4 linked regions of the Homo sapiens genome follow. The protein of the gene in region 2 interacts with the protein of the main gene of each other region in a pairwise test. Each region holds a gene or a part of one and is shown on either strand. Other genes may lie near its edges.

Region 1 (7,534 bases), on a different chromosome or scaffold from region 2:
TTCACCAGCCTGTGATCCCCCAGCCCCGGAGCCACCAGCCCCCCACTGCAGAGCTTTCCTGATGCCTCCCCTCTGTGGCCCAGGAAGAGCCTGTCTGGCCCTGGGAACTCTGATTTGGGCTGTTCTGGTGTCAGCAGGGGTGCGAACTTCTTAAAGAGCATCTCCTGATCAGCCCTTCTCATGTTACCTGCAGGGAACGAGGACAGGGAACGAGGACAGAGGGGTCGTCTGGGCTCTTGGCTGGGCTGACAAGAGGCAGAGTCATCGTTGTGGGACCAGAGAGAACACACAGCTCTCTTGATGGTGGTGCCTGACCTGGCCCCCTCCTCACTGCCACTCCCCTCCTGGCAAGGGCGAGGCGTAGGGGTGAGCAGGGCCAGGCAGCCAGCTCAGGGATGGTACCTCTGAGGCAGCCAAGCACCTGGGGGCATTTCTGGTGTGGAGAGCAGGGCAAAAGAGAGAGGCTGGCCCGCGTGGTGAGTCTTCTGCACCCCCTGGGGCTTTGGTCGGGAATCCCAGCTGCTCCTCTGCCACAGCAGGAGGCCTCTCGGGCTCCAGATGCCTTTGGTTTCTATTAAAGAAACGCAGCTTGTATTTGCACTAATTAAAAACCAGAACGGAAAAAGGAGGCAGGAACCCCCGAAAGTCTGTTAGGCTGGAAACTGATTCCCGTAGTGCCTCAGGTGCTCATCCGCCACAGACAGGTAGGTGGCTCTCATGCTGGGAGAGTACTGCCAAGAGAGAAGAGAGGGGATGGTCAGAGCTGAGTCAGCCAAGCACTGCACCAGCAAAGGTGCCGGGGACTTCTCAGAGTGGAACTGGGTCGGGTGTCAGAGGGAAACCCGGCCGTGCCTCCACCCCACATCCATCAAGACTTCTGCCTCCCAGCCTCAAATAAAAAATGCACACACAGACCAGCTGTCCTCCAATGTCCACTCCGCCCCAGCACACACCCCCAGCATCCAGCCTGTCCCCTCACACTGGGGGCAGCGTCAGGGTCCACCAGCGCACGGAGGAGCAGTCAGCAGCCAGCAGGCTGAGGGCAGAGGCCCAGAGACTCAGAGAAGCAGGTTCAAATCCCAGCTGTGCATCTTACCCCGTGACCTTGGCTTAGGTTCTCCAGCCTTTTCTAGCCTCAGTTTCCCTACCTGCAAAATGGACATAAGAGCACCCAGCTCTTACGTTGAAAGGGCGAAATGATATGGAGCAGGGAAGAGCCTTAATAACACAGCTGCTCTCAAACTGGGCTGCTCGCCAGAAACACCTGGGGAGCCTAAAAACATCCCGATGCCCAGGCCACATCCACTAGTATATAAATATGTATATTTTTGTTGATGCAAAATGCACATAACGGTGGTGATTCATACCTGTAATCCCAGCACTTTAGGAGACAGAGGCAGGAGGATCGTTTGAGCCCAGGAGTTCGAGACCAGCCTGGGCAAAATGGCAAAATCCTGTCTCTATCAAAAATACAAAAAATTAGCTGGGCATGGTGGCATGCACCTGTAGTCCCAGCCACTTGGGAGGCTGAGGCAGGAGGAGAAGGTACTTGAGCCCAAGAGGTGGAGGTTGCAGCAAGCTAAGATCACACCACTGCACTTCACCCTGGGCAACGGAGCGAGACCCTCTCTCTTAAAAAAAAACAAAGACCACACACATAACATAAAATGAATTTAAAGAGCTATCAGTGTTTTTAGAGCTCTTTAGGCAATTCCAGTGTGCATTCAAGTTGGAGGAGCATGACCCAGTACAGAGTAGGTGCCTGACAGAACTTAGTTACTCGTCCTTGGCAGTGGAGAGGGCCTTTCACTCTATACCCTGCACACAGGCTACCTGGGGATCTTGTCCACAGGACCTGAGATTCTGCACTTCTAACAAGCTTCCAGAAACTGCCACTCTCCTGACCCGGGAAGCTTCAGGGGTCCAGGCCATTCACATCAGGGGGAATGGAATGCTTCCACTTGGGCTGGGGTTGGGGAGGAGGGAGCATGAGGTTTTCGACCCAGTGGGTCTCAACCAGGGATGTTTTTACCTCCCAGGGGCATTAGGCAATGTCTGGAGATATTCTGGTTGTCACAACTGGGCACTGGGCTGCCACTGGCATGTAGCAAGTAGATGCCAGGGATGCTGCTAGACGTCCTACAATGTACAGGAACCCCCCACCGAGAATGACGCTGCCCATCAATAGCACTGAGGCTGAAGAAGCTGGCCTCAGAGCAGTGGTTCTCCAAGCGTGGTTTCCAGGGCAGCAGCAGCAGCTTTACCTAGGAATATGTCAGACACGCACATCTCCGGCCAGGCACGGTGGCTCACACCTGTAATCCCAGCACTTTGGGAAGCCGAGACAGGTGGATCACCAGAGCTCAGGAGTTCAAGACCAGCCTGGCCAACATGGTGAAACCCTGTCTCTACTAAAAATACAAAAAGTCAGCTGGGCGTGGTGGTGGGGGCCTGTAATCTCAGCTACTCAGGAGGCTGAGGCAGGAGAATCGCTTGGTCCTGGGGAGCGGAGGTTGCAGTGAGCCGAGATTATGCCACTGCACTCCAGCCTGGGCAACAAGAGTGAAACTCAGTCTCAAAAAAACAAAAAAGGCACATCTCCAGGCTCCAACTCAGATTTTCTGAATCAGAAACAGGGTGGGTCCCTCAGGCGATTCTGATGCATACGCAAGTATGAGACCCTCCTTCTTCTTTTTTATTTTCTTTGAGACAGAATCTCACTCTGTCACCCAGGCTGGAGTGCAGTGGTGCAATCTCAGCTCACTACAACCTCCGCCTCCTGGGTTCAAGTGATTCTCCTGCCTCAGCCTCCCGAGTAGGTGGGATTACAGGCACCCATCACCATGCCCAGCTAATTTTTGTATTTTTAGTAGAGACGGGGTTTCACCATGTTGACCAGGCTGGTCTCGAGCTCCTGGCCTCAAGTGATCCACCTGCCTTGGCCTCCCAAAGTGCTGGGATTACAGGCATGAGGCATGGTGCTGGCCAAGACCCTCCTTCTTAAAGCAATATTTCCCAACTTGAATGATAATAAGTTTGTTAAACTTAGAATCTCCCAGGCTCCTTCCCCAAGATATTCTGTTTCTGTAAGTCTGAAGAGAAGTCTCAACGTCAGTATCTTTAACTGCCCTGGGTCATTTTTGTTCATCAAGTCCAAGAAACAGTGCCTAAAAGGACAGGAGAGATTATTCCTTGAAGGCAGAGCTGGGGGAAGAAACATTTCCAGCAAGGGACAGGCTGTATATCCCGATCACCAGGCGTGACATCACCCACCCAGTGAGGTCCCCTGACTGTCCCAGAGAGGGTGCTCGGCAGAGGGAGGAGTTTATCCACCTCTCGAACTTGCTCGGTGCTAAGGAGTGTTTAGAGCAGGCGCCCCGGGGAGGGTGGGGCGCAGCCAGCTGTGCTGTCTTTACTGGGGCAGACACCCACACCCTCCATGCTGTGGGGTTCCTTGGTCTGCGGCATCATTAGATGTCTCTCTAGGTCCCTTACCGGGCATGGAGGTGGAAGGGTCTTCCCAGGGCAGGCTGGGCTAGGTGGGACTGGGCAGTCAACTTGGCCAAAGCAATAAGTGTTTCTGGGCAGGTCTTAAATCTAGGGAGGAAGGGTTTTCTGTCCTTGAGCCTTGCAAATAAGGTCAGTTGCTGATTATCTCTGCTAACGGCAGGATGAGTGGCCTGGATCTTTCAAACAGAAGGGAATCTGAAAATCATTTTTATTTGGCATCACAGTGCATAGAGTAATTCTTTTTTCACAGCAGATTTCCCCTAATTACGTTGTGCTTAGATTAATATTAAAGTCAATCTGCATTCCTGGGGCCACGGCAGCTGGTGGTTGGAAAAAGGAACCCGGGAGGCTTCTGATTAGTGAGAGAAGCTAGGCTGGCATTTAAAAGGTGCTGACTTTTAGGCTGGGCGTGGTGGCTCATGCCTGTAACCCCAGCACTTTGGGAGGCCAAGGCAGGTGCATCACTTGAGGCCAGGAGTTAGAGACTAGCCTGGCCTGCATGGCGAAACCCCGTCTCTACTGAAAATGCAAAGATTAGCTGGGTGTGATGGCACGTGCCTATAGTCCCAAGTACTTGGGAGGCTGAGGCATGAGAATTGCTTGAACTCAGGAGGTGGAGGATGCAGTGAGCTGAGATTGCACCACGTACTCCAGCCTAGGTCACAGAGTGATACTCTGTCTCAAAAAAATAAACATAAATAATAAATGGTGCTGACTTTGAATACAGGTTCAACCAGCCCACTCCCGGGGACCCCAGGAAGAAAGAACGACATGAGGCTGGGGCTTGTGTTTGTAAAGCTGTGGGATGGGACAGCAGGTGAGGTGCTCCAGGCAAAAGCACCAAGGTGGTGGCACAGGAGTGAATGACAGGGGGATTGGTTCCAGCAGGCTTGCTAGCAGGTAGAGGCCAGGGATGCTGCTGAACATCCCACACGCAGAGGACAGGCCCCATAACCTATGGGCATTTGGGGCTGCACCGTGCTTTGTGGTGGGTGCTCCACTCCCTAGATGTCAATAGCATCCAGCCCCCATCCCCAGCCTCCAAGCGTGGTAATGAAAATGCCTCCAGACATTGCCAAATGTCCCCAGGGGGGAAAACTGCCCCTGGGTGAGCCCCTGCTCTACACTGTGGCTCAAACGCCACCTATTAAATAGAACCTTCTGGAATCCCCTAGAGCAGCAGCAAAGATGGCTCCTTCTTTCTGGTCCCAAAGTACCTTGTAGCACTTTCTACAGGCAGCCTTCTTGAGTGCCCCTTCTATAGACTGGAACTTCCTGAAGACAGGGACTGGGTTCCACTTGCTCTTTTCTCGGGTCTGACACTATGATTTTCACCAAGCGCCATGACCGGGAAGCTGACTCCCTGGGTGCCTGTGCGTGCACTTCCTGGGTCCTCAGGGCCCAGGTCTATCACGCTGGTCCCAGGTATTTGGGCCCCAGTGCTTCTGCTTTCCTGTTGGATGTCCCCTTCCAAACTATCTGGGTCGGGGCACTGAAATGCCTCGCCAGGCCCAATGAAGGGAGATGCCTGGCTCCAGGACCCTTCTGCCCACCCCATGGCAGACTTCTGGCCTTTCATTCCCCTTGTCCTTTCTTATAAATGCCACAGCTCTGGCCGGGCACGGTGGCTCATGCCTGTAATCCCAGCACTTTGGGAGGCCAAGATGGGTGGATCACCTGAGGTCAGGAGTTCAAGACCAGCCAGCCCTGTCTCTGCTAAAAATACAAAAATTAGCCAGGTGTGGTGGTGCATGCCTGTAATCCCAGCTAGTAGGGAGGCTGAGGCAGGAGAATCACTTGAACCTGGGAGGTGGAGGTTGTAGTGAGCTGAGATGACATCACTGCACTCCAGCCTGGGCAGAAGAGTGAGACTCCGTCTCAAAAAAAAATAAAAAATAAAAAATAAAATAAAATTGATAAATGCCACAGCTCTGTGGAGAAGGTGGGGTGGAAGAAAGTCACAAATAACAGCTCACTGTCCTACGGCACTCACTGGATGCTTCGCACGTACGCTCTGATAACAATCAATTTGCCCATTGCACACACCACCGAGGAGGAATGTGCTAGTATTCCCATACTCATTCTATAGATGGGGAAACTGAGGCACAGAGCAGCAAAGTGCTTGTCCAAAGTCACAGAGGCCATAAGCCATGAGCTGGGATTTGAACCCAGGCCTTTGGCACTGGAGTCCGTGTCCCTGAACCTTGGCGGTCACTTCACTGTCTGTTTACAGCTTTCTTTGTCTCAGCCAGTATTTCTGTGTCCTTTGGATACTTCTCTGGGATGAGACAGCATAGTCTTTCCTTCTCAACCTGCCCACCCTGAGCTACTCCCCTGAGGCTGTATCTCAGGTACTCTGGCTGGAGGTGGTGGGGTGGACAAGAGGCACTGGCCCTACTTGGGCACAGTCCTAGGGACATGGGGAGCTGAGACGGATTGAGGAAGGCTGTGTTTGGGTTCAGCCCTCCCAGACCCGCCACCACAGCCAACCCACCGTCCAGCCCAAAAGAGACCAAGGATTAAGGTAAACAGAAATCTAAAAAGAAAAAAAATTCCTTAATTTTCTCTGGAGCAAAAAGGGAAAGAGACCCCCTCTCTTCTTGCAGTATTTCCTTTAGAAAACTTATCATTGTAAATAATTTCTGTCTTTTGAGATGTCTGCAAACCTTCTTAAAGGCTGAATATGGCCCTTGCCAGTGTTACAATCCAGGTATGGTTTTTTCAGGTCTGGGAGCCATCTCTTGGAAGTACAAACATCAGGAAGACAGCACCTCATCTCCTTCTCAGTGACAGTTCACTTAGGGGCCTGGCTCCAAGTTGTAGCTATCTGATTGTCACGGAAATAGGAGTTTTATTTTTCCTCTGGATAAAGGCAATTAGCTGGCCGGGCGCGGTGGCTCATGCCTGTAATCCCAGCACTTTGGGAGGCCGAGGCGGGTGGATCACCTGAGGTCAGAAGTTTGAGACCAGCCTGGCCATCATGGAGAAACCCCATCTCTACTAAAAATACAAAAATTAGCCTGGCGTTGTGGCACGCACCTGTAGTCCCACCTACTTGGGAGGCTGAGGCAGGATAATTGCTTGAAACCTGGGTTGCAGTAAGCCGATATTGCGCCACTGCACCCCAGCCTGGGCAATAGAGTGAGATTCTGCCTCAAAAAATAAATAAATAAATAAATAAAGGCAATTACTTAACCAGGATGGCCACCCCAATTAGCAAGTGGATTAAGGTGGACTACTGTGACAAACAGTGCCGTCAAGTCCTCTTGCTGGATGACAGGTATGCAGTGGGCTGTGTCTTGTTCCTGCCTGGCTAGGGGAAGGAGTGAGATTTCTTGCATCTTTGCAATCTCCTTAGCGGACTGCCTGGGATACCCACGACGGTCTGGTTTAGTGCATATTCAATAACAGAACAGTTTCATTCTTTTCTGCCTTTGTGGACAGGATTCACTGGGTTGGCAGGAGGTTTTGTCTTTATGTATTACCCCAACAAGGAAGGGCCAGAGCCCCAATTACCGTAGGCGGAGGGGAGGCTCTCCCGATTAGTGGCACGTTCTCGTAGCGTGGGTTCCTACCAAAGAGCATGGCTTGGTTCCTGCGGGGATGAGAGGAGAGCTCAGGAGGGGATGGTGTGGGAGTGGGGGTGTGTGTAGATTTCTACAGGAGGGTCCCATGGGTGAGCACATGGGAGGTGGGGGATGGAACCAAACCACAGATAGAGTGGAGGGGGTGCAGTGGGCAGATATGGAGAAGAGCACCTTGGGAAGCCTGGGGACAAGTGGCTGATGGGCAACGGAGGCTGGGAGCAGCATGGCCTGGAGAAATGCAGCTTTTTGGGCCTGAGACCTGTCCCACCAGCTTGTGGCAGAGGCTGCTGACATCAGTGGTTTCTTCCCCCAGCACATGTGGGTGTGGAGGGGTGACTAGATGCTCCCCGGGGGCCTTCCCTCCAGGCACCCTGTGGCTGTAGTGGGGACCACGGGTGGCCTTGGATGCCTTCCTCCCCACACCCGGCACTGTGGAC
Region 2 (7,534 bases):
GCGATACCACACCCAGCTAATTTTTGATTTTCTTTCTTCTTTTTTTTTGAGACAGCGTCTCGCTCTGTCGCCAAGGCTGGAGTGCAGTAGCGCGATCTTGGCTCACTGCAAGCTCCGCCTCCCAGGTTCACGCCATTCTCCTGCCTCAGCCTCCCAAGTAACTGGGACTACAGGCGCCCGCCACCACGCCCAGCTAGTTTTTTGTATTTTTAGTAGAGACGGGGTTTCACCGTGTTAGCTGGATGGTCTCAATCCCTTGACTTCGTGTCCCACCTGCCTCAGCCTCCCAAAGTGCTGGGATTACAGGCGTGAGCCACTGCGCATGGCCAGTTTTTGTATTTCTAATAGAGACAGGGTTTCACCATGTTGGCCAGGCTGAATGCCTGAACCTCTGACCTCAAGTGATCTGCCCACCTCGGCCTCCCAAAATGCTGTGATTACAGGTGTGGTGAGCCACCAGGCCCAGACCTAAATAACCTCTTTTTTTTTTTTGAGAGACGGAGTCTTACTCTCTCGCCCAGGCTGGAGTGTAGTGGCACAATCTCAGCTCACTGCAAGCTCCACCTCCCGGGTTCACGCCATTCTCCTGCCTCAGCCTCCCCAGTAGCTGGGACTACAGGTGCCCGCCACCATGCCCAGCTAATTTTTTTTATTTTTTAGTACAGACGGGGTTTCACCATGTTAGCCAGTATAGTCTCGATCTCCTGACCTCGTGATGTGCCCACCTTGGCCTCCCAAAGTGCTGGAATTACAGGCGTGAGCCACTACGCCCAGCCATAACCTCTTTTTTCTTTTCCCTCGAGACAGTCTTGCTCTGTCACCCAGGCTGGAGTACAATGGCGTGATCTCGGCTCACTGCAGCCTCCGCCTCCTGGGTTCAAGTGATTCTCCTGCCTCAGCCTTCTGAGTAACTGAGATTACAGGTGCGTGCCACCACACCCAGCTAATTTTTTGTATTTTTAGTAGAGACGGTGTTGCACCATGTTGGCCAGGCTGGTCTCGAACTCCTGACCTCATGATCCACCCAAAGTGGAGGCTGAACTCCGCCTCGGCCTCCCAAAATGCTGGGATTACAGGCATGAGCCACCATGCCTGGCCCTAAGTAACCTTTTAAACTAACCTCAAGAGGAGAGAAATCGTGATTAACTAAAAATGAGAGGCCTCCCACAGGGACCACCAGAAACTCCACTCGGAAGGTATCATGATTTCCATCGTAGGTTGCCTTAAATTTCAGGTAGATCAGGTACACTGTGGCATAGGAGCAGGCAAGGTAGATAACCTACAAATAAAAGAAAAAACACCAGGTGTCAATACCTTGCCACTGTTCCAGCACCCCCCAGCTTTTTTAATCACCCATGTATTTGGAAAGGCAAGATTTTTTTCCTTAGCTTTGTTTTTGGAATTTTAAAACTTAAATATAGTAAAATTCTCTTTTTTGGAGGTGTTCAGTTCTGAGGCATAACCACCACCAAAATTAGGACACAGAATAGTTCCATCATCCCCAAAATTCTGCCATGCTGCCGCTTCGCAGTCAAACTCCCCCAGGCTTCCTTCACCTCCTGCAGTGCAATCACACTTATGTTCTCTGTCCATAGTTTTGCCTTTTCTAGAAAGCCACATAAATGGAGTCACATAGTATGTTGCCTTCTGGGTCCAATTTCAGTTAGCCTAATGCATCTGAGAGGCAACCAAACTTATTGTGTGTATAGCAGGTCTGCCAATAACATCCTTTGGTTGTAACACTGATGAGAAAAGAAACTGGTTCCCGGCTGGGGCCGCCATCCATGGCGTTTGCATGCTCTCCCCGAGTCCACGTGGGTCTTCTCCAAGAGATACTCTTGGAGAATCTCCCACCAGAGATACTCTGGTTTCCTCTTACATCTCAACGATGCCAGTTAGGTGAACTGGCATGTGTGAACTGTCCTAGTGTGAGTGGGTGTGGGTGAGCGCGCCCTGTGATGGAATGGCATCCTATGCAGTTGGGGGAAAGTTCGCGCCTTGAACCTGAGCTGCTGGGATAGGCTCTGGCCACCTGGGACCCTGAAATGAAGTAAGTGGGTTGGAAAATGAATACAAACTATGGTAAAATAATTCATAAAGTAGTATACAATAATTATACATATGTACCACAATAAACAATGTAGTACAAAAGCACTCAGTGAGCCTGCTATATTTGTTATTGTTTGTTTTTGAACTTTATGGTAGTAGGAGGTACTCCTTATAATTTTTGTTTGTAAACATATACTTCTTGATTTAATCCGCCACCACTATGACCACCATCATGCACGGATTCACCAAAAACTGGATAAATAATTATGTTGCTTTTATTAATCTTTCTTAAATGTATAGCTCATGTTGGCTGGGCATGGTGGCTCACGCCTGTAATCCTAGCACTCTGGGAGGCCGAGGCAGGCGGATCATGAGGTCAGGAGATCGAGACCATCCTGGCTAACATGGTGAAACCCTATCTCTACTAAAAAAAATACAAAAAATTAGCCGGGCGTGGTGGCGGGTGCCTATAGTTCCAGCTACTCAGGAGGCTGAGGCAGGAGAATGGTGTGAACCCAGGAGGCGGAGCTTGCAGTGTGCCGAGATCTCGCCACTGCACTCCAGCCTGGGTGACAGACTGACTCTGTCTCAAAAAAAATAAAAAATAAATAAATAAATAAATAAATAAATGTATAGCTCACATTTGTTTCGGTTTTTTTTTTTTTTTTTTTTTTTGAGATGGAGTCTCGCTCTGTCGCCCAGGCTGGAGTGCAGTGGCACAATCTCGGCTCACTGCAACCTCCGCCTCCCAGGTTCAAGCGATTCTCCTGCCTCAACCTCCCAAGTAGCTGGGATTACAAGCGCCTGCCACCATGCCCAGCTAATTTTTATATTTGTAGTAGAGACGGGGTTTCCATGTTGGTCAGGCTGGTCTCGAACTCTTGACCTCAGGTGATCTGCCTGCCTCGGCTTCCCAAAGTGCTGGGATTACAGGCGTGAGCCACAGCACCCGGCCTGTTTTGGGTCTTTATTTAAAAGTCTGGTGGTGTTTTGGGGACCGGAAATATGCTGTAGGAACTTAACTCTTACTCATGTCAATTAGCCTATGGTAAAACTGGCTTCAGTGTATGTTGTTTCACTTCAAGTTGCAGTGTGTGTTGTTTCACTTCAAGAACCTACCAATGACATTAAGTGAGGGCCTAGTGTTAATAATTTGTTCCTTTTTATAGCTGCGTCCATTGGTGGTCCATTGTATGGATGCACCAGTTTGTTTATTCACTCACCAGTTGAAGGACAGGTGGTTTCTAATTTGGGAGGACAGTGGATAAAGCTGCTGTGAACATTTGCGTACAAGTGTTTGTGTGAATGTAAGTTTTCACTTCTCTTGGGTATGTACTTAGGGGTGGGACTGCTGGGTCATATGTTAAGTGTAAGTTTAACTTTTTTTTTTTTTTTGAAACGGAGCCTTGCTCTGTCACCAGGCTGGAGTGCAGTGGAGCAATCTCGGCTCACTGCAACCTCCGCTTCCCGGGTTCAAGCAATTCTCCTGCCTCAGCCTCCCCAGTAGCTGAGATTACAGGCGCATGCCGCCACACCCAGCTAATTTTTAGTAGAGATGGGGTTTCACCATGTTGGCCAGGATGGTCTCGATCTCCTCACCATGTATGTGAATAAATACAAAACAAAATCTACATGCATAAACAAGACACACATCCATCTACACATGCACTGAGCCCCCTCAGCGCATCTAGCCAAGGCTCACAGCAGAGAGGCCTCTCACCAGGACCTAGACTGTGGCCAGCTCAACATTAATAAAAACTTGATGGGCGTTATTTCCACTAAGGCCTTAGCAGCACCTGGAGAAGAACAGCTGCTTCTCTCCTCTCACCAGCACACAGAAGTTAAAGTAAAAAGACACGAGCACCTCGGGTCTCACGCCAGACTTTCAGGACATCGTGCTTAGAAACTACAACCAAGCAAGCATGGATTCCTCTGAAACCTGGGCATCCTGAGGGGGAGAGAGGATTCTTGCTCACACACCTCTAATGCCTGCAGTTTTAACTTGCCTAGACAAGTGGGGACCTAACCATTTTTAAGTAAGCTCATTATTTCCTGAATACTAGGTTCCCATCATTTGGTAATGAAGAATCCATTATAAGTGACTCAAATTTGCTTTTTAGTAAAGACCAGACTCACATACTGCTTTGTCTCCTTTCAACAGTGCTTATGAAAATGCTCTTGAACACAAAATGTTGGGGGGAGGTTGTTTAGGTGCCATACCAATAGGATTCAGTTGAAATATTACTTCCTTGGGTATGCTAATAACCAAATGGCCTAGAATAGTGCCTGGTGCACAGGTGCTCAGTATTTGTAGAAAGAAGGAAAGAAAGAAAGAAATCAGACTCCTATTACATATCCTGAGAGCCCCTGTTCTTTTTTTTTTTTTTTTTTTTCAGACAGGATCCTGCTCTGTCACCCAGGCTGCCAGGCTGGAGGGCAGTGGTGCAATTACGGCTCACTGCAGCTTCAACCTCCAGGGCTCAAGCGATCCTACCACCTTACCCTCCTGAGTAGTTGGGACTACAGGAGTATGCCACCATGCCTGGCTAATTTTTGTATTTTTTTTTTTTTTTTTTTTTTAGAGACAGGGGTCTAACTATGTTGCTCAGGCTGGTCTCGGATTCCTTGGCTCAAGCAATCCACCCACCTTGGCCTCCCAAAGTGCTGGGATTACAGGCGGGAGCTACTGGGCCTGTTTCATGTTTTTTATATCCATAGGTTCGCAACTCTTATACTTTTCCTTTGTGGCACCCATCATAAATCGCAGTCATTTGTACTGCCATGATCTGTGTACTCTCCCACACCAGCCTAGAGACTTCTGCTTATTTTCTGCCGCATCCTCAGTTCCCAGCTCTGTAGGTGTTCACAAGCATGAATTCAACACTGTGCGAAAGAACTGAAGCTCACGTAGTCCACAACTTCCCCCAGTGTGGGGTGTGTGCCACCAGTGCTACACAAAGTGTTAGGTGGTGTGCAAACATTTTGTATTTTAATAGTTATACACTAGTTTTAATGTGAATTAGAAAAAATATAAGAAAGACAACAAAGGTGTTATAGATACTAATAATTAGGACAAGTTGAAAGGTTTAAAAAAATACGTTACTAAGTAAATGATGGTATAGAGATCATTTAAGCACGGCAAATGTAATAAAAATGACACACACACAACAGTTTAAGTAAAACTGACTCAGTGGCAAAGAAAAAAGATAGAAGCCTATAGACAGTTCCTCACACAGCAGCGAAATGAGACACTGCAACTAGGAGTCCTGCTTTCGTTCCTTGTTATGTACCAACTTGCTGGATTTCTCTGGGGACTCTGTAATTTCCCACGGCTTGAAAATATAATAGTTACCGCTCTTACTTACAGAGTTATCAAGAGCTTTAGATTTATCATACTTAAGGAACCTAAAATAAAAAAGTTCTAACTTCAAAGTATTTTAATTAACTACTGTTTTGAAACCAAAAATGTATGCTTACTGATAGCTCGTTTAGTCCCAGTTATATATACAAGGTGGTCTGAAAGTTTTAAAGTCAAGAACAGCATATTAAGACATTATTTTTGGAGCATTTTAATTAAAAATACACAGCTGACATAAATTAAGTGTCCATAGACCTGTGCACTGTAGATGAAATACATTCCTGTGGATGGCATACCATACCTTCATAGATGTGTTATACAATGAAATAAATGAAGTAAAAAGATCCAGGTAACGAGTTGTGAAGACCAGTGCAAACAGAAGCTGGCTTTTCCCAGAAATACCTAGAGAAACAGAAGGGAAGTATTAGAAGGGCCTGAAGAGCTTTGGGATTCCTGTGGATCACACTGTGCAGGGAGTGCAGACAGGGAAGGAGGGGTGCGTGGGGTCAAGGCCCAGGTCTAGGGATGGCTCTGAATGAACAAGAGCAGTTGTAGTTTTTCTATCCCTTCCCATTCCCAAACATGCTCCTTTTGGGAGGCTCTAACAGGCTTTTCTGTCTCACTATAAAGGGCGACCACAGGAAAGGGGCTTTATTATGCCAGGATGTGTATCATTCAAACGAACCTTTTACTTCTCAAATATATCACCTTAAGTAGGAACAAATTTCTCAATAATTCTGCTGTCATTTAGTGTTATAACTTGTCTCTTACATTCAGATTTTTCTTTTTTGTTTTCCCCTGAGACAGGGTCTCCCTCTGCTGCCCAGGCTGGAGTGCAGAGGCACGATCAAGCTCACTGTAGCCTTGACCTCCTGGGCTTCAGCAATCTTCCCACCTCGGCCTCCAGAGTAGGTGGGACTAGAGGTGTGAACTACCACACCCAGCTAATTTTTAAACAAATTTTTTGTTCACCATGTTGCCCACACTGGTCTTGAACTCCTGGGCCCAGCTTCCCAAAGCGTTGGCATTACAGGTATGAGCCATGTCGCCTGGTCCCTTCTTTGTATGGTAAAACAGTATCTCCATGGTGAGAAATCTTTTGAGAACGGAGATGGAGTCTACTGTCATTAAGGGGGATGAGGAGTAGATGAGAAGCACCGACTCAGGTAAGAGTTGGGCAGGAACTCCCGCTGGAATAATGGCATCGCATCCCATGGTGACTTCTTTGCTAAGAGCGGCAATTACTTGGATATGTTAAGATTTTTAAAGCTTCCCTCTCAGTTAGGCATAGTGGTCATGCCTATAATCTCCACATATAGGGGGGCTAAGGCGGGAGAATCGCTTGAGCCCAGGAGTTTGAGACCAGACTCCATCTCTACGAAAAATAGAAAAGTGATAGCCAGGCAAGGTGGCACACACCTGTGGTCCCAGCTACATGGGAGGTTGAGGTGGGAGGATTGCGTGACTCCAGGAGGCTGAGGCTGAGTGAGCTGTGGTCACATCCCTGCACTCTAGCCTGGGTGACAGAGCAAGACCCTGTCTCAAAAAATAAATTAATTACAATAAAATAGAAATTCCATTGTATTTGTATAAAAATGTTCCTGAATGCTAGGACAACATGAAGGTATGAACCCACAACTACAGCTGGTCTTCAAAAGCAGCTGTCTTTTTTAAAGCCTTGAAACTGTGTTTCCACTTCCAACCACCAACCCACCTCCAGAGCACTGCATGGCACAGCCACACTCAGCCAGGAAGGCTGGACATTTATGTGGTGTGCACACAGCTTTTCTGACATCTATATTTGGCCAAATATTTATGTGACAAAGGACGCAAACTATGGGTTTCAGATGCTGGAGACTGAGCAAATGCATTAAAGAAACTGAAGGCTGACTAAATGTCAGAACCCACCCACCCTCATCTATAATGCATACTTCACACCACTACACATTTTAGTAAGTATGAATTTAACAGAAAAGTCACTTCACCCAAATCATTCACAACACTCCTCTGGAACGTGAAAAGCACATTATTTTTCTTTTCTTTTTTTGAGACTGGGTCTCACTCTGTTGCCCAGGCTGGAGTGCGGTGGCACAAGTACAGCCCACTGCACCTTTGACCTCCCTGGGC
Region 3 (7,534 bases), on a different chromosome or scaffold from region 2:
TTATTTTCACTCTCAGTTTTTGTGCACTTTTAATATAACAAATTTTCAAACCACTTCATTAATAACATATCTCCACATCAGAAAATATCTGAAAAATAAGTTCCATCTTAGAAGAAAAATGTCCATCCGAGCTGCATATGAAAACCTTGAGCCATAGTATTCAAACCGTCAAAGAGCTTCTGTAGATATTGATGACAATGATGTACAAAACATTATTGGAACATAAAAAATATATATAGTATATTCAAAAGACAATTTCTAATTGCAGTTAGATTGACTACTAGGTTGACATTGACCAGTCAATTTGACATTACATTGCACAAATTTTACGATCGCACATATACAAGGACACAGGAACACATTCACTCGCTAGTTACAAGGACTTCAGTGACAATAGGATAGAATTATTTGTCATTTAAACCAGTAATAGTTGCTATGAGTACACCATTAGATTCAAAGATGGATTTGTTTCTCTAATACGTAGGAGAAATAATGGCACCAAATTGTACATATACGCATCTTAGAAGTTCAACTTGTAGGTATTATTTGCTACAGTAAGTGGAAGGTAACAATTTTGTCACATGGTTTGTTCTTTAACTGAAGGTCAATGGAAAGCCCGCTTGGCACAAACACAAGTCAATCTACAAAAGGGTTTCTGCCACTCTCGTAACAATCTCTTGTTCCGGCCTTTTCCCCAAATCGCCAATAAGTGAATATGGAACATGAGAAGCTGATCATGTGTTTTTTTTTCAAAGTCTCATGCTGATGGATTGTTCTATTTCTAGCTCCTTCCTCCTGTAGCACGCCTGATGAAGCACTTTTTGGTGATAATTTTGCTCTTATTCCTGTTTTCCTAAATAAAGGGAATCTGCAGAGCAGCAGGGGGTCCATGCACCTTTCTTCAAGTGCAATCTCAAAGCTGGCACTGGATGGGTTGCAGTGGATGAAGAGAGACCCCTGTGCCGCTCCATTCCTGAGTCTCCTGAAGATGAGGAGTCTGTCAGCCCAGCGGGGAGAAGGGCTTCTGAGCAAGGAGCTGCTGTCCCATCATCCCATCATCCGTTTGGGATGGGTCTGGCCTGGGCCCTTCCCTTCCCCGCACCTGCTCTGTCTGGCTCCACCAGCTCACTCCGAATGCCATCAGGTGAACTCATGATCCGACTGGCATGTCCACGTGGGCTGTTCCTTGGCAAGCATGGCCCAGTGTGTGTGGGCATATATATATCTATGCACAATTGTGCAAAAGAGGACATTATGTTTGTGATGTCACTATTTGATTTGTGATAAAAGTTACATACCATATGGAATTGTGCTTTGTCAGAATTCCCTTTCTTCCCAGAGAAGGCTTCGAGTAATTCAAGAATCCGAATCCTGGCCTGGAACATTTTTTGCTTGGTGTCCTTCCCTCTCTTCCTACTTAAGGCAGCAGCAGCAGTAGCGGCAGCAGCAGCAGCGGTCTCCTGTCCTCCCGACGAGGCCCCCCACTCCCAGGCTTTTCCTCCCAGCTGTTTGCACATCTCTGGAGGTGTGGGAGATCTCTGGCTTGTCTTGCTTTTCTATGTGGACCCTTCCCCCTTACAGGGTGGAAGAGCTTTGCTTGTAGTCCCGCAGAATGACAGAGGCGTAGGATACGTTGGGAGGGGTGCAGAGCACCGACTCGGACACGGGGGAGCTGGGCACCGAGCTGCCCGAGGCCACCGAGTCGCGGAAAGGCGACGGAGGCGTCAGCGCAGGCGAATCATCCGGGGTCAGTTTGCTGGCCGCCTGCAGGTCCTCCTCCTCCTCTTCCAGTTCGTCTTCTTCCGTGTTCCCTTCCCGCTCGTGCTCATACACGTACTCCTGGAGGAGCTTAAACCTCTCGCTGTCGTCGTCGTCGTCCGCGGGCGGGGAGACCAGCTCCTCCCCAAAGGTGCTCAGCTGCAGCGGCAGCATCTGCAGGTGCTGCGGAGGTGGCGGGGGCGGGTACAGGGACCGCAGCCCGTTCCCGGGACCACCGGGGCCTGCCAGCACCGCGTGAAAATCCGGGATCGCGGTACTGAAGTTGCTGACCACTCCCTGGAGCTGGTCCATCAGCGATTTCTGCTGTGGAGGGGGTTGCTGCTGCTGCTGGAGAGGAGGGGGCAAGCCCTTGGGGAGGGCTGGTTCGGCCAGGAAGAGGGGGGTCTCCTCTGCGGTCAGGTGGGACGGCAGAGGCGGAGTGGTCGCCGCGCTTGGCACGCGCCTGTGCACCACCATGGAAGGGCTACCAGGCGGGCTAAAGCGAATCGGCTGGGCATCCTCCTCCTCCTCTACGTTGTAAAGGGTCTTGGTGCTGGTATCTGAAAAGGTCAGGCTCTTGCCAGAGCCTTGGTAACTTTTAGTGAGGGGCTTGATGACGGCTGTTTGGTTGCAGGCCGTCTCATTGGTCTTCACGTGCACAGAGAGGCGGTGCCACATATGCTGTCCCTTGGGCACCTGTCCTCCACCTGGTTCAGACCATGACACAGACTTGCCATTAGAACTATGAATAAAATAGAGATGGATTTATTTGCAGATAGATCATGCACACAGGATAAAATACATAGAAAACATATGCAAACCTAGCTCAGTGTGATTTAACTGCTGTCTCTGCTGTAGGCCTTTGCTCCAGCACCCCATACCTCCTCTTACAAAAAGAACACCAAAAGCTGAAGGAAATATTGACCCTGAGAAAAGTTGTTGAGGAGAAAAGCCAGTCTGTTGTAGAAATAGCTATTTTCATTTAGGTCTAAGATTTCACAAACCTCTCTTTTTTCTCCGTTGCACTCTCTCCCTCTCCCTCTGTCTCTCTCTGACACACACACACACACACACACACACACACACACTTTTGAAAAACTCCCAACTGATGGAGGAAAACTTTAAAAAAAAAATCTTAGTTACACATGGACAACCAAAATAATGGCTATTGTCCTTGGGACAAATTAGGACCCACATACAAAGCTACTCTCGTTGTGTTGTGGGATTATAAAATAGATCCTCTCAGTTGCCCATTCTCATATGCAAGTATTTCCCATGACCAGGGTGGCGTGATCACACAGGGTACCTATAAGGAACATAAAAAAGCAGATGACAGAAAAACTCAGACTCATGGTCAATTTATGAGCTTCATAGCTTTTGATTTTTTTAAAACATTTCAATGCATTATTTCTCACACATACAGTGGATCACAATTCACACAAAGGCCCTGACTCACAGAAGCTGGTTTGGGATTTTCACTCTAGGAACATTGAAATAGCTGTATTTGAAAAGCAATAGAATGAGGAAGCCAGGAAAAATACAAATGCCCACATCCTGCTTTAGGATAGTTTGATGCAAATAAGAGAAAATTATGATTGAGACAAAGCAGCAGTTACTGAGACGAAAACCTCTACTCATTGAGCCTTGGTGAAGAAGAGTCTTAGGGTGCCAGGAGCATCCCAGCCTTATCAACTCCCATCTTCATGGCACCCACAGAAAAGCAGCCATATGGAATTTCTCCCTGAATAAGAAAATAAGAAGATGTACTGTGGCCTACACCCCAAATTCTGTTCTGTCTATTGTAATAACTCTGATCTCACTTCTGGACTCAGCTTCTTTTCTGTATAACTTTAAGCAGATGTTGGTACCTTACCATAGCCTTCTACTAATAACAACGGTGGAATCCTTAAATCAGGAAATAATTGTTTCTTTTCTTTTTTTAGAAGTTTGCTTTTTCTCTGTACTCAGTAAAATGACAGAGAAAGTAGCATAATAGTAACACATTTATGACATTAAAAGGAATATAAAAATGGACATTTTTTTCTTTAAGTGGAGGTGTGAAATAGACTAATCCATATTCTAGTTTTTGTTTGGAAAAAATGTAGGAAATGATCAGTAGTTTAAATAATGGTTTATTTCATCATCTTGAGAATACAAGAACGAATACTTCAAAAATTATATGTGAGCATCATTTATGATGAAGGTAATATTTTGACATTTCATATTTTATAATCTTGAAAAGTAAAGTGAGCCAGATAAGTACAGATGAGTGTAAATGTCTGATATTGATTATAGAAAATTCTGGATATAAAGGCTCTAAAATAGATAAAACAGTTAAAGTTTTGACCTGATTATTTGAGAAATAGGTAGTTCCTCCATATATCTGATACCCTACACTGCATTTTTAATTGTCTAAGACAAAGCTCATCTCTGTTATGTCAAAGTTAATATTTCTTTCAAATATATGCCTTACACATTATCTGAGACTGTGGAAGTGCTTGTAAAGTTTTTAAAAATTGTCTTATTGACTTCCACACTATCTTGTTGGAATAGCTGACTCTTTTCTGAGGTAAACAAACTAAAGAACAGGTCAGTGGTGTCCCTGGCAAGAACAGGTAGTCAACCAGCTAGCCAGAATCACCACCAGAATCCACAGTTGCTCTTCTGAGCTTAAAACTGTAGGTAAACTCATCTTCCACTTAATCTTTTTCAACTGCCCCATCATCTACCACTATACACACTTTGTTTTTTTTATGCATTCAATATGCCTCTTCTAGAAAGGCAAATATAAAACTTATTTGCCTCTTACCCTCCTTAAGTATGCCTTACTATATATAGCATCCAACTCAATAATTTGCATCATTTTAAATTGCAATGAAAAAAATGTTTCCTTCCCCATCTTCCCACTTCTTCATAGGCATTAGGAAATGCCTTTTTAATGTTCACCAGGAAAATGCTTAAACAAAATGTTATCCTGTATCTATTTAGTTGTGTGTGTGTGTGTGTTAAAACAACAACAACAACAACAACAAACAGGTCCCTTGAGAAATAATCTGCCTCTAATTCAACCAGCAGGCTTAGCTGTTCCAATGACACATTGCCTTAGTTTCTACACATAATAGCAAAAAGGTACCTTGTTTCCTGAAAGCCCTAATGTGATCCACTTCACCCACTCATTCACATGGGCTGTTTTCCTCATTGTCCACAGGTTCTATGTGGGCCTCTTTTTAAATCAAAAGCACCCATAAGTTAACAGTATTATTAATCATGTTGCAGACAGATATAATCAGAATTTAGTTCTGTTTTAATTAAATCCAATTTTTATTGTTGAGATGGGACATTTTCACTATGGCCTTCAAAACTGGTAACTTTCGTTCCCCTCAGTCTTGCTCTAGATTTGCTGTAAAGTACTTTTAATTAGGAAACAGATCTCACACCTCAGGGCATTTATCAGATTAAGAAAATTAGTGTAATCTTTTTTCAAGGATAAAATAAACTGCTTTTTAAAAATCAAACATAGTAGAAGGAATGTATCATCTCACAGACATTGCAGCACTGAGTACAAACTTTAGTTCTTCAAGATGAGTCATTTCTTACCTGTGGTCCATAGATAATCTGAAAGGTCCATGCATCTATACCTGCATTAAGCATTGTTTTTAAACTGAATAAATATTATGTATTTGTAGACAATGCACTGCTGTTTTTAAATGTATGTAGATGCTGTTATGATAAAGAGTGTTATTCAATACATGTGTAACTAAATTCTGGGAAGCTTTTGTTTTGTTCTGTATTCAAATGGCCGTGAAGAGAGGTATATTTAGTAATAATAGATTCAGGTGAAGGCTTAAGAACTGTTTTGGTGAGAAAAGAGAGTATCTTATTTGAGAAGGCAGGGAACCCACTACTGTGATATTAAGAAGAGAAAAATATGTAAAATCAAATCCATTTATATCAAGAAAGAATAAATACATTATAAAAATGCAATATTATCCTGCAATATGACATTTATTTAATCCCAGATAACTTTAATCGTTTCTGCTTCTGCCACCAGCTTCTTCCTTCTATTGTTTAATTTTATTTGGCTTCCTAATCTTAGGAAAAGCAATCTGGTTTAGAAAACACCACATAATTGTTACAAAGCACCTGAACCTTTTGCTCCGACTTCAAAAGACAGACCTGAGGCCTAAATCAATCTTATATTTGAAGATCAAATGCAGAGGCATTTAGAGTAAATATCTCAGGTGGCTCAATTGGAGGAAAACACTGTTAGGCCTACAGGATGTATAGGATAATGTATAGTTACTGTGTGGACAGCTAGGCAGGCCTGAGGTTGCAGTTCCAGCAACAACAGGTTCGGGATCTTGCTTTGGTTTTTCTTTCATTAGTTAGCTATCGCAATCCCCCAAACAGAAAACCCAATATTTACGGCACTTTAGAGAATAGTTGAGAGTGGGTGGTGTAAATAGATTAGTGTATCTTTGGCATTCAGTGATCCTGTCTGTTTTATTTGTTTCAGTAAGTACTAGTTACATCTGCAGAGTACACTGTTCTCTGATCCAGAGAGGTTTAAAATGGGAATAACAGTGGGTGGGTGTTTGAGATCATCAGGAGGGAAGCCTCCTGCACAAACTGCCTGAAGGGGAAGCTTACACAACACCTGTCTCTCTTATGTCCAAATCAAGTCTTTGCCTCTAGGCTTAATAGCTTCACAACAGATACAAGGACAGTATCCAGAAAGCCCACAGATAATGCAAGACCTTCGCGTAAGAAAGAGAGGCTCACTCCTGGGAACCTGAGGAGGGTAGCATTTGTTTTCTCTGAAAGTGAAAATGGAAACGGAAAACACCATTGAGTCCCAGCAAGGAGGGAATTGGCTCACCAAGAAAAAAGATAAAAAGGCACAGACTTCGGGACAGTTCTGCTCTGGCTCCCGCAGCTACAGCTAGAACATGAGGCCTGTCAAGGAAGGGGAGGTTCTGACCCCACCAAGACTTTCCCAAAGGAATGCTGGAAATACAGCTGTCCAGATATTTCAACTTCACATTCGTCAGCCCTCTGGTACCCTAGTGCAGCTTGAGAAGTAGGTCTTGTAGAATCTCAGGCCTAGGAACTATTTGACACCAGTTGTATCAGACTTCTGTTTTCCCAGGCAACCTCGAGTTTGTCATCAATACAAAGGACTCCCACTGACTCCAGCTCCACTTCTTGAAAGCCTTCCAGAAAAATCTGCATATTTAGAATGTATTCTCAAACTTGGGGGCCTATCTGAACATAATTACAATTTCTCGCCTTTTTGACTCACCACTAGCTGTAAGGTAAAGAATTTCTGAGGTGTTTTTTAAGACAAATGCTTTCTAATTATATGAGAACTTGGTAGTTTCTGTTGATATGACATCTTAAATGGCATTGTGAATCTTAGCCTTTTCCCCTTTAATTCTACCTTCATCATAAGCTAGTCAGAGAGTCATTGGCTTGCTAAAATTAGAGAATATCACAAAGTCTAAGTATGCAGTTCTTCTTTTAGGATCTTTAGATCAATTACATCCTACATCCTCAAGTTATATGACACTAGATAAAAGACAATACAAAGAAAATCAGTTTGCCCTTATTAAGACCTGTGCTTTCTTCATCTGATCAATAAAGAAAAAGACATTCAGAAATAAAATTACCTAATCAAATTCAGTAAAGTATAGAAGGCACCATAAAGTTTGTCTGGGTAGAGGCTCCACTCTCCTGAGAACATTACCCAATTTATTTCATATTAAAGAATAGAATT
Region 4 (7,534 bases), on a different chromosome or scaffold from region 2:
CTCAAAGGAGTTCAGGTGCAGCTTGGGCTGCTGCTTCAGCTTGTGACAGCCATAAACCTTGGCCGCTTCCATGTGGTGTTAGCCTGTGGGTGCACAGAGTGTTAAGAGTTGAGGCTTGGGAGCCTCTGCCTAGATTTCGGAGGATATATTAAAAAACCAGGGTGTCCAGACAGAAGCATGCTGCAGGATTGGAGCCCTCACAGAGAACCTCTACTAGGGCACTGCAGAGGGGAAATGTGGGGTTGAAGTCCCCACACAGAGTCTCCACTGGGGCACTGCCTCGTGAAGCTACGAGGGGAGGGCCACCATCCTCCATGAATAATATATCCACCAACAGCCTGCACTCTGCACCAGGAAAAACCACAGGCACTCGACAACAGCCCCTGAGAGCAGCTGCAGGGGCTAAACCCTGCAAAGCCACAGGGTGTTCCATCCCTCCCAAGAGCTCCACCCCTTGCATCAGTGTGCTCTGGACATGGGATATGGAGTCAATGGAGTTTATTTGGAGTTTTCAGCCCTGCTGGGTTCTGAACTTCTGTGGGGCTTGTAGCCCCTTTCTTTTGGCCGATTTCTCCCTTTGGGAATGGGAATGTTGACCCAATGCCTATAACCCCATTGTATCTTGAAAGTAAATAACTTGTTCTTTATTTTACAGGCTCATAGGTGGAAGGGACCTGCCTTGTGTCAGATAAGACTTTGGACTTTGAGTTGATGCTGGAATGAGTTAAGGCTTGAGGGGACTATTGTGGAGGGATGATTGTATTTTGAAATGTGAGAAGGACATGAGATTTGGGAGGGTCCAGGGTCAGTATGATATAGTTTGAATATGTGTCCCCACCCAAATCTCATGTTGAATTGTAATCTCCAGTATTGGAGGTGGGGACTGGTGGCAGATGAATGGATCATGGGGACAGATTTCTTACGAACAATTTAGCACCATCCTTCTGGTGCTGTCCTCGCAATAGTAAGTGACTTCTTGTAAGATCTGACTGTTTAGAAGTGTGTGGCACCTCTCTCTTTCTCTCTCTCGCTTGCTCTTGCTCTGGCCATGTGATGTGCCTGCACTGCTTTGCCTTCTGCCATGACTTCATGGCTTCATGAGGCCTCTCCAAAAACTGAGCAGATCTACCAGTATCTTGATTCCTGTAAAGCCTGCAGAATCATGAACTAATTAAACCTCTTTCCCTTATAAATTACCCAGTCTCAAGTATTTATTTATAGCAATAAAAGAACAGCCTAAAACACACAGAGACATACACGCACACACAAAACACACACACAGCCACAAGGACCAATCTTACACATAATTATTTTGTTTACCTCCTAAATTTCTTTTTTTCAACCATAATTAGCAAATCATCTCAGCTACCTTTAAAACACACATACACATAAACACACACTAAAATCTTCCATGATGAAATACATGGAGCACACATACAAGCTACATGAAAAAGTAGTTTCTGTGAATTGCTTTATTTTCTTTTTAAAGCCACCTTTGTAGTACTTTGCTTATAATTTGTTAATAAAATCAACCACCAATCACATGTGATAGCATCTTAGAGATCAGTGCCAATGACTTTCCTTTGAGTTTCTTTGTTTGTAACTTGTCCACTTTCCCCAGTTAGTCCCATCTGGAAGGGTCCCAGGGTTTTCGAGGAAGAAGGCAATTTAATCCAGAAGTTCTCAATTCTTTTTGAAAATGTTCAGCAAGTGAAGAGTAGCTCTAGCCATTCACGATTTTTTTCAGATAGTCACGGAAGGCCAGAAAGCAGTGGTCTGCCTGCCAACAGGGCTTGGGCCTGAGCATGACTCAGGTTCCTCTGACATCTCGTGCCAACTCCACCAGCCCAGCCTGGGAAGCAATGTAAACTATTTTTAACAATATGGGAGGGGAGAGGAAGTACTGGTTCCGATAACTCTCACTGGCTAATCTTTTAAAAGCGCTTGGAAGTTCACCCATTTGGCAATGAGAAGTGAATGGAACTTGGAACCGCAGAAATGGAAAATATTGTGTACTGAGCTTTGCAAAACAAACACATTCTTTTTTAAATGGATTGTACCTTTCACTTAAGAACCTGAAAACATTCAGAGCACATCAATAATTTCCAAAACAATGTCCAGGGCAGCTCAACACTTTTTTGCATTGACTAATGGGAAGGCTCAGACCCAAAAAGGCAAGCTCACAGGACAAGCCAATGTCAGACTTCCAGCTTCATGTCTGTGACCAGTTCAGGGCTCTGGAGGAACCACCCTGAGCAGATGTGAAGTGATCCATCTGGTCTGGGCATCAGCTGGACTCCCTGGAGTTTATAAATCAATTTAACCCTGCCACATATTCATGTACTTGAAAAACAGATAGACCCACCTTCAAAATACATTCAACAGAAACACTGGTCCAGAAAATATAACTGCAAATTATCTACTCTAGAGTTCCTATCACAAATTGAATGTTAGGAAAAGTAAAAGCAAGGGTTACTGAACTCATAGACATCAGAGACTTCTAAAACTTAAGGGAAAAAAAGCAAGGTGAGGAACCAACATAAGACAGCCAACTTGTAATTCTGCCAAGTAAGGGCATTAAAAAAAATCAATCACCATATTTTCATTAAAAAAGAAAAAGACAGCAATAAAAAAGGAAGTTCATTATATCAGAATAAATAATTATTTTTTTTAAAAAATGTTTACTGCAGGAACACACCAAGAAAATTCTTTAAAACTATTAAATTTAAAGTTTAAAAAATTTGTTACATTGTCAGCTTTTATTCTTTTCAATTTACAGGCCACAAACCTGGAAACATGTCACAGAACTGGTTGTGCAGACCTGCATTTAGAGACCACGTGGGCTGCCAGGTTCACTTACCATCCCTATACACTTCCCTCTAAATACTTTAAGTATCATATTAAACCACTGGAAAGTCCCAACACCCAGAGTGAGTATAGACACTTTTACCTAACATAGATTTCTTCTTATATGAGGCTGGACGATCATAGAGTGATCTCTGGATGTCGGAATATTTAGAAACCTCTTTCCTTTCTAGCATGGGGACATACTGTGTAGTATCAGCCTGCTTCATGTCCATGTAGTCACCATTGTTTTCAAAAGATAAAATAACATAGCTGTAAAAACAGAAAGAGAAATCTTACCCAGGGTGCCCTTCTGAAGTGGTCATTCCACTTTCAGTAGATGATGATTATGTGCCAGGTACTGAGGTAGGCATGGGAGCTAACTGGGTAAAAGCAAAACCAATCCATACCTTTCACATGAGGTGATCTAGTCAAGGAAATGAGCATTAATCAAATAGTCGCACAAATACATGCATCACAGCAATTCCACTACTGGGTATCTACCAGAGGAAAGGAAGTCATACTAAAAAGATACTTGCACACACATGTTTATAGCAGCACAATTCACATATTGAAAAAATGTGGAACCAACCCCAAATGCCCATCAATCAAGGAGTGGATAAAGAAACTGCAGTGTATCTATACATATGTATGTGTAGGTGTGCATATATATATATATATATGTAACTCAGCTATAAAAAGGAATGAATTAATGGCTTTTGCAGCAACCTGGATGGGATTAGAGACTATTATTCTAAGTGAAGTAACTCAGAAATGGAAACCAAACATCGTACGTTCTCACTCATAAGTGAGAGCTAAGCTATGAGGATGCAAAGGCATAAGAATGACACAATGGACTTGGGGACTCGGGGAAAAATTGAGAGGCAGGTGAGGGATAAAAGACTACAAACTGGGTTCAGTGTATACTGCTCCAGTGATGGGTGCACCAAAATCTCACAAATCACCACTGAAGAATTTACTCATGTAACCAAATACCACTTGTTCCCCAAAAACCTATGGAAATAAAAAAATTTTTTAAATAGGGAAAAAAAGAAATGTAAAAAACAAAATAAATACACAGATCAACTCAAACTCAGCTGTGTTGTGAAGGAAGAAAGGTTTCAATAGCTTGTAAGGAAAATGACTTGATCTGGGGGTCAAGGAAGCACTTTTCAGAAGACGTAGAATGGATCCCACTGACAAAGATGGGAAAGACTAGCGGAATATTTGTCATGGCACCTGGCACATACAAAGGACTCCACAAATGTCAGCTGCCATGATGACTACTGTTCACTTGTTTTCAGAGCCAGTTCCCTGCACATCCTTAGCAGGAGCCCGCACATCCTGAAGAGCCACATCTAAGACAGTGGGGCTGTGCTCCCATGGACCTGTAAGTCCATTACACTTAAAGTTTGAAGAATTCACTACGTTAAGTCTGTCATTATTCTTTCTCAGTTTTTCAACTCACAAGCCTTGGTTGGAACTTGAGCCGTGTGGCCATGTGGCTTGGGCATACAATTCCTTCTACCCAATCAATTTAGCACCCATTTGGTGTCCACCAAGTAATTTATTATGAAGTGAATTCATTGTACTTTCTGATCTTACAGAATTTCTTACCTACAGAGTTCTTTATAGCCACTTGTAGATTTCTGCAGTAGGGATCACTATCATTGACGTCATTTATAGGTCCAGGTTCAGCAAGGACCTCGAGCTTGGAGATCCACAGACAGTTCTTGCAAGGTTCCAGAACTCAAGCATCCCTGGCCAGAGCTGCATTTTATAGGTCTAAGTGGATCACATGTAAATAGCAGAAGAGCTCCCAGAGTCATTCTAACTCACTCTCATTCAAACCTATCAGCAAGGCCTTCCCATGTGACACCCCAGTCCAAAACACCTTTAGACATCATGCATCTCTCTGCATGACCATGGAAAGACTGGACAGGGTGGTTTGACTCTAAGTCTTGCTACCTTGGGCACTGAATCTGCAGACATGATATCTATCAGGACATGGGTCTTTCCATTTGTGATGCCTGTAAGATAATGATAGACAGCAACATCTCTCTTTGCACCCACCTCCGTGTGCTTTCATCAGCAGGGTTCAATCCAAAGATATCCAGCTCTTTCTTTGGCTTCTCTGGGTGGTGGCTCAGGAAGCTATCCCTATTCTTATGCAAATAGTTGACCAAATCTCCATAGAAGCAATACTCTGTGATGATGTAAATGGGGCCTATGGGGACAAAAGCCGTTAGGAGATGGGTATGAAAATGAAGAACAGAAAAGCCATGAATTGTCCTGCAGACCATATGGCACAGAAAAAAATAAGATACCAAAAAAGTTTTTTTTTTTTTTTTTTTTTTTTTTTTTTAATAAAGAGCCATGAATGGCTATGACTGGACTGGCAACAGATTTTGCTCAAAAACCAATGAGCTTCCATCAATTCAAGGGACCAGTCAGCTCCATTCAAGGGACTTCTATTCCCTGCCATGTGTGGGGATGGAGAGTGGAGGATTTAAGCCTGATTGAACAGTTTTCACAACCACATGTGTCCAGTGAAAATCCTCACTCCAGGTCAGTGAGCCCACCTGACTTGGTGCAGGCTCCCAGCAAGTTTACAATGTTCAAATGTGGCCCCAGGTGAGTCATTATCTTCAGTTCAGACATGAGAGCTTGTTTTTCACTGGATCTGGCCGTGGCTGTTGAAAGAATAAATCACATATCAGTCCAGCTGAGCTACCAACTTCCTGTTCTCAGAAAAAAACCAAGAATATGACTAATCCTGTGATTGGATATCATTCTATTTACCAGAAGTCTAAAAGAAGCAGATAGCTACTTGGCCTCAGTGCTAATAACTAATTCCTGGTCTTTCTAGTAAAAAGAAGTCACTGGAAATAACAAGCTCTTAATTTTCCAACATACAGGCAGCAAGAGCAATCTAAATAAACCTAATCTAAATACACATAAAACCTGGAGTCAAAATAATCAGGACCTAGTCCTAAATGTCTTATTTACTAGCTGCATGATTTTGAGAAATTCCCTTAATATCCCCATGCTCAAAAAATCCCCGTGCTCAAAAAATCCCCAGGAAGGAGCACTTACGTTTTAGCATCTTCACTGCAACTTTCATGACAGGTTGGGACCGGCTTAATCCATAGGCTGTTCCTTCAACCACCTTCCCAAACGCTCCAGACCCCAAGACCCGACCTGTGGGCAGGCAGAATCATTAACACCCAAAAACTCCAGACGCCTCCTCAGCTTTCTGCACCGTAGCCAGCTCTCTGCGGGCGGACAGCTGGGCGAGTGTCTTTCCTGTTTGGAGTAATCATAATGACTCCTCCAAGTCATCGTGTCAAAAAAGGAATTGAGCCCACAGGGAAGGAAATTAGCATAATTGCTTTTGTCGAATAACACTTGCAAGGGAAAGAAAACACAGACGGGAGAAAGGAGGGTGCAGCCCTCCCTGGTGTGAGCGCGCTGTCTACCAGCTCCGTGCTGGGCCAGCCCCTGGGATCCTCTTGCCTTCGGGGCTCTCACCCACACCTCCTGGCTCTCTCCCCTTCTGTTTTCCATATGCAAACAGGGGCATCTTTTGTCTTAGTAAATTACTAGCCACTGGAAATACTTCAGTATTCAAAATATCACTGATTCTAAGGAGTGACTAAATAAAAACTTCAGGCTGGGCTCACTGCTCCCTATTTGTTAGGAAAGCCACTCTACCAAGAGCTAAACATGCCCGAGAGCACAGCAATTAGCTTCATGTTGGGAGGAGACATACGTAAAGACACTGAAGCTGTTGTCCCACCCTGAAAGAGCTCACCCTGAGAGAAACATTTCCCGGGGTGTCAGTCTCACCACGGATAGCCAAGCCAGGAAAAGACTTGGCTCATAAAAGACACTAACAGCCAACACTGCCTCTTACTGCACGTCTGTGTTACTGAAAATCGTACCTGGAAAGGTATTGCTTCACCAGCAATGCCTCTTGGTATAATGGGAATTATGCCCTTTTCCCCATATTTTACTACTTTTTAACTCCCTAAGCTCCTCATCCCTTGTTGGGAAATAGGCAGGAAAATAAAGAAAGCTTAGATATAAATATTTGAAATTGGGGGGCAGCTCTTATAACCGCCCCATGGATTCTCCTTGTCCGCTGCCTAGACAGAGCCGATTTACCAAGACAGGGGAATTGCAATAGAAAAAGGGTTTAATTCACACAGAGCCAGCTGTACGGGAGACCTATTCTACTATTACTACTATTACTCGAATCAGTGTCTCTGAAACTGGGGGAATTTCTACTATTCTGCTATTACTCAAATCAGTGTCTCTGAAACTGGGGGAATGGGGTTTTTAAGGATGATTTGGTGGGTAGGGGGTGAAAAGGGGAGTGCTGATTGGTTGGGTCAAAGATGAAATTATAGGGAGCTGATGCTGTCCTCTTGCACTGAGTCAGTTCCTAGGTAGGGGCCCCAAGATCAGATGAGCCAGTTTATTGACCTGGGTGGTGTCAGCTGGTGCATCGAAATACAGGGTCTCCAAAATATCTCAAGCACTGACCTCAGGTTTTACAACAGTGACCCCTAAACCATACTTTCTAATCTTGTAGCTAATTCGTTAGTCCCGCAAAGGCAGTCTAGTTCCCAGGGAAAAAGAGGGTTTGTTTTGGCAAAGGGCTATTATTGTCTTTTTTTCAAAGTCA

Evidence for each region.
Region 1: the proteins of KDELR2 (region 2) and TTYH2 come close enough for resonance energy transfer, tested with the Homo sapiens proteins (one large-scale study listed by BioGRID).
Region 3: the proteins of KDELR2 (region 2) and GRM1 come close enough for resonance energy transfer, tested with the Homo sapiens proteins (one large-scale study listed by BioGRID).
Region 4: the proteins of KDELR2 (region 2) and PDGFRA come close enough for resonance energy transfer, tested with the Homo sapiens proteins (one large-scale study listed by BioGRID).

What each region holds. Positions count from the first base shown.
Region 1 is NC_000017.11:74,253,326-74,260,859, reverse strand, and holds part of TTYH2 (protein tweety homolog 2), read right to left. Parts: intron 7,106-7,534; coding exon 7,027-7,105; intron 732-7,026; coding exon 651-731; 3' UTR 1-650. UniProt on the Homo sapiens protein: Calcium-independent, swelling-dependent volume-regulated anion channel (VRAC-swell) which plays a pivotal role in the process of regulatory volume decrease (RVD) in the brain through the efflux of anions like chloride and organic osmolytes like glutamate.
Region 2 is NC_000007.14:6,468,476-6,476,009, forward strand, and holds part of KDELR2 (ER lumen protein-retaining receptor 2), read right to left. Parts: intron 5,810-7,534; coding exon 5,709-5,809; intron 1,280-5,708; coding exon 1,121-1,279; intron 1-1,120. UniProt on the Homo sapiens protein: Membrane receptor that binds the K-D-E-L sequence motif in the C-terminal part of endoplasmic reticulum resident proteins and maintains their localization in that compartment by participating to their vesicle-mediated recycling back from the Golgi.
Region 3 is NC_000006.12:146,428,838-146,436,371, reverse strand, and holds part of GRM1 (metabotropic glutamate receptor 1 isoform alpha precursor), read right to left. Parts: intron 2,501-7,534; coding exon 1,576-2,500; 3' UTR 1-1,575. UniProt on the Homo sapiens protein: G-protein coupled receptor for glutamate. Ligand binding causes a conformation change that triggers signaling via guanine nucleotide-binding proteins (G proteins) and modulates the activity of down-stream effectors.
Region 4 is NC_000004.12:54,275,899-54,283,432, reverse strand, and holds part of PDGFRA (platelet-derived growth factor receptor alpha isoform 1 precursor), read right to left. Parts: intron 6,046-7,534; coding exon 5,941-6,045; intron 5,538-5,940; coding exon 5,427-5,537; intron 5,072-5,426; coding exon 4,918-5,071; intron 3,118-4,917; coding exon 2,951-3,117; intron 1,853-2,950; coding exon of another isoform or gene 1,752-1,852; exon of another isoform or gene 1,455-1,751; intron 1-1,454. UniProt on the Homo sapiens protein: Tyrosine-protein kinase that acts as a cell-surface receptor for PDGFA, PDGFB and PDGFC and plays an essential role in the regulation of embryonic development, cell proliferation, survival and chemotaxis.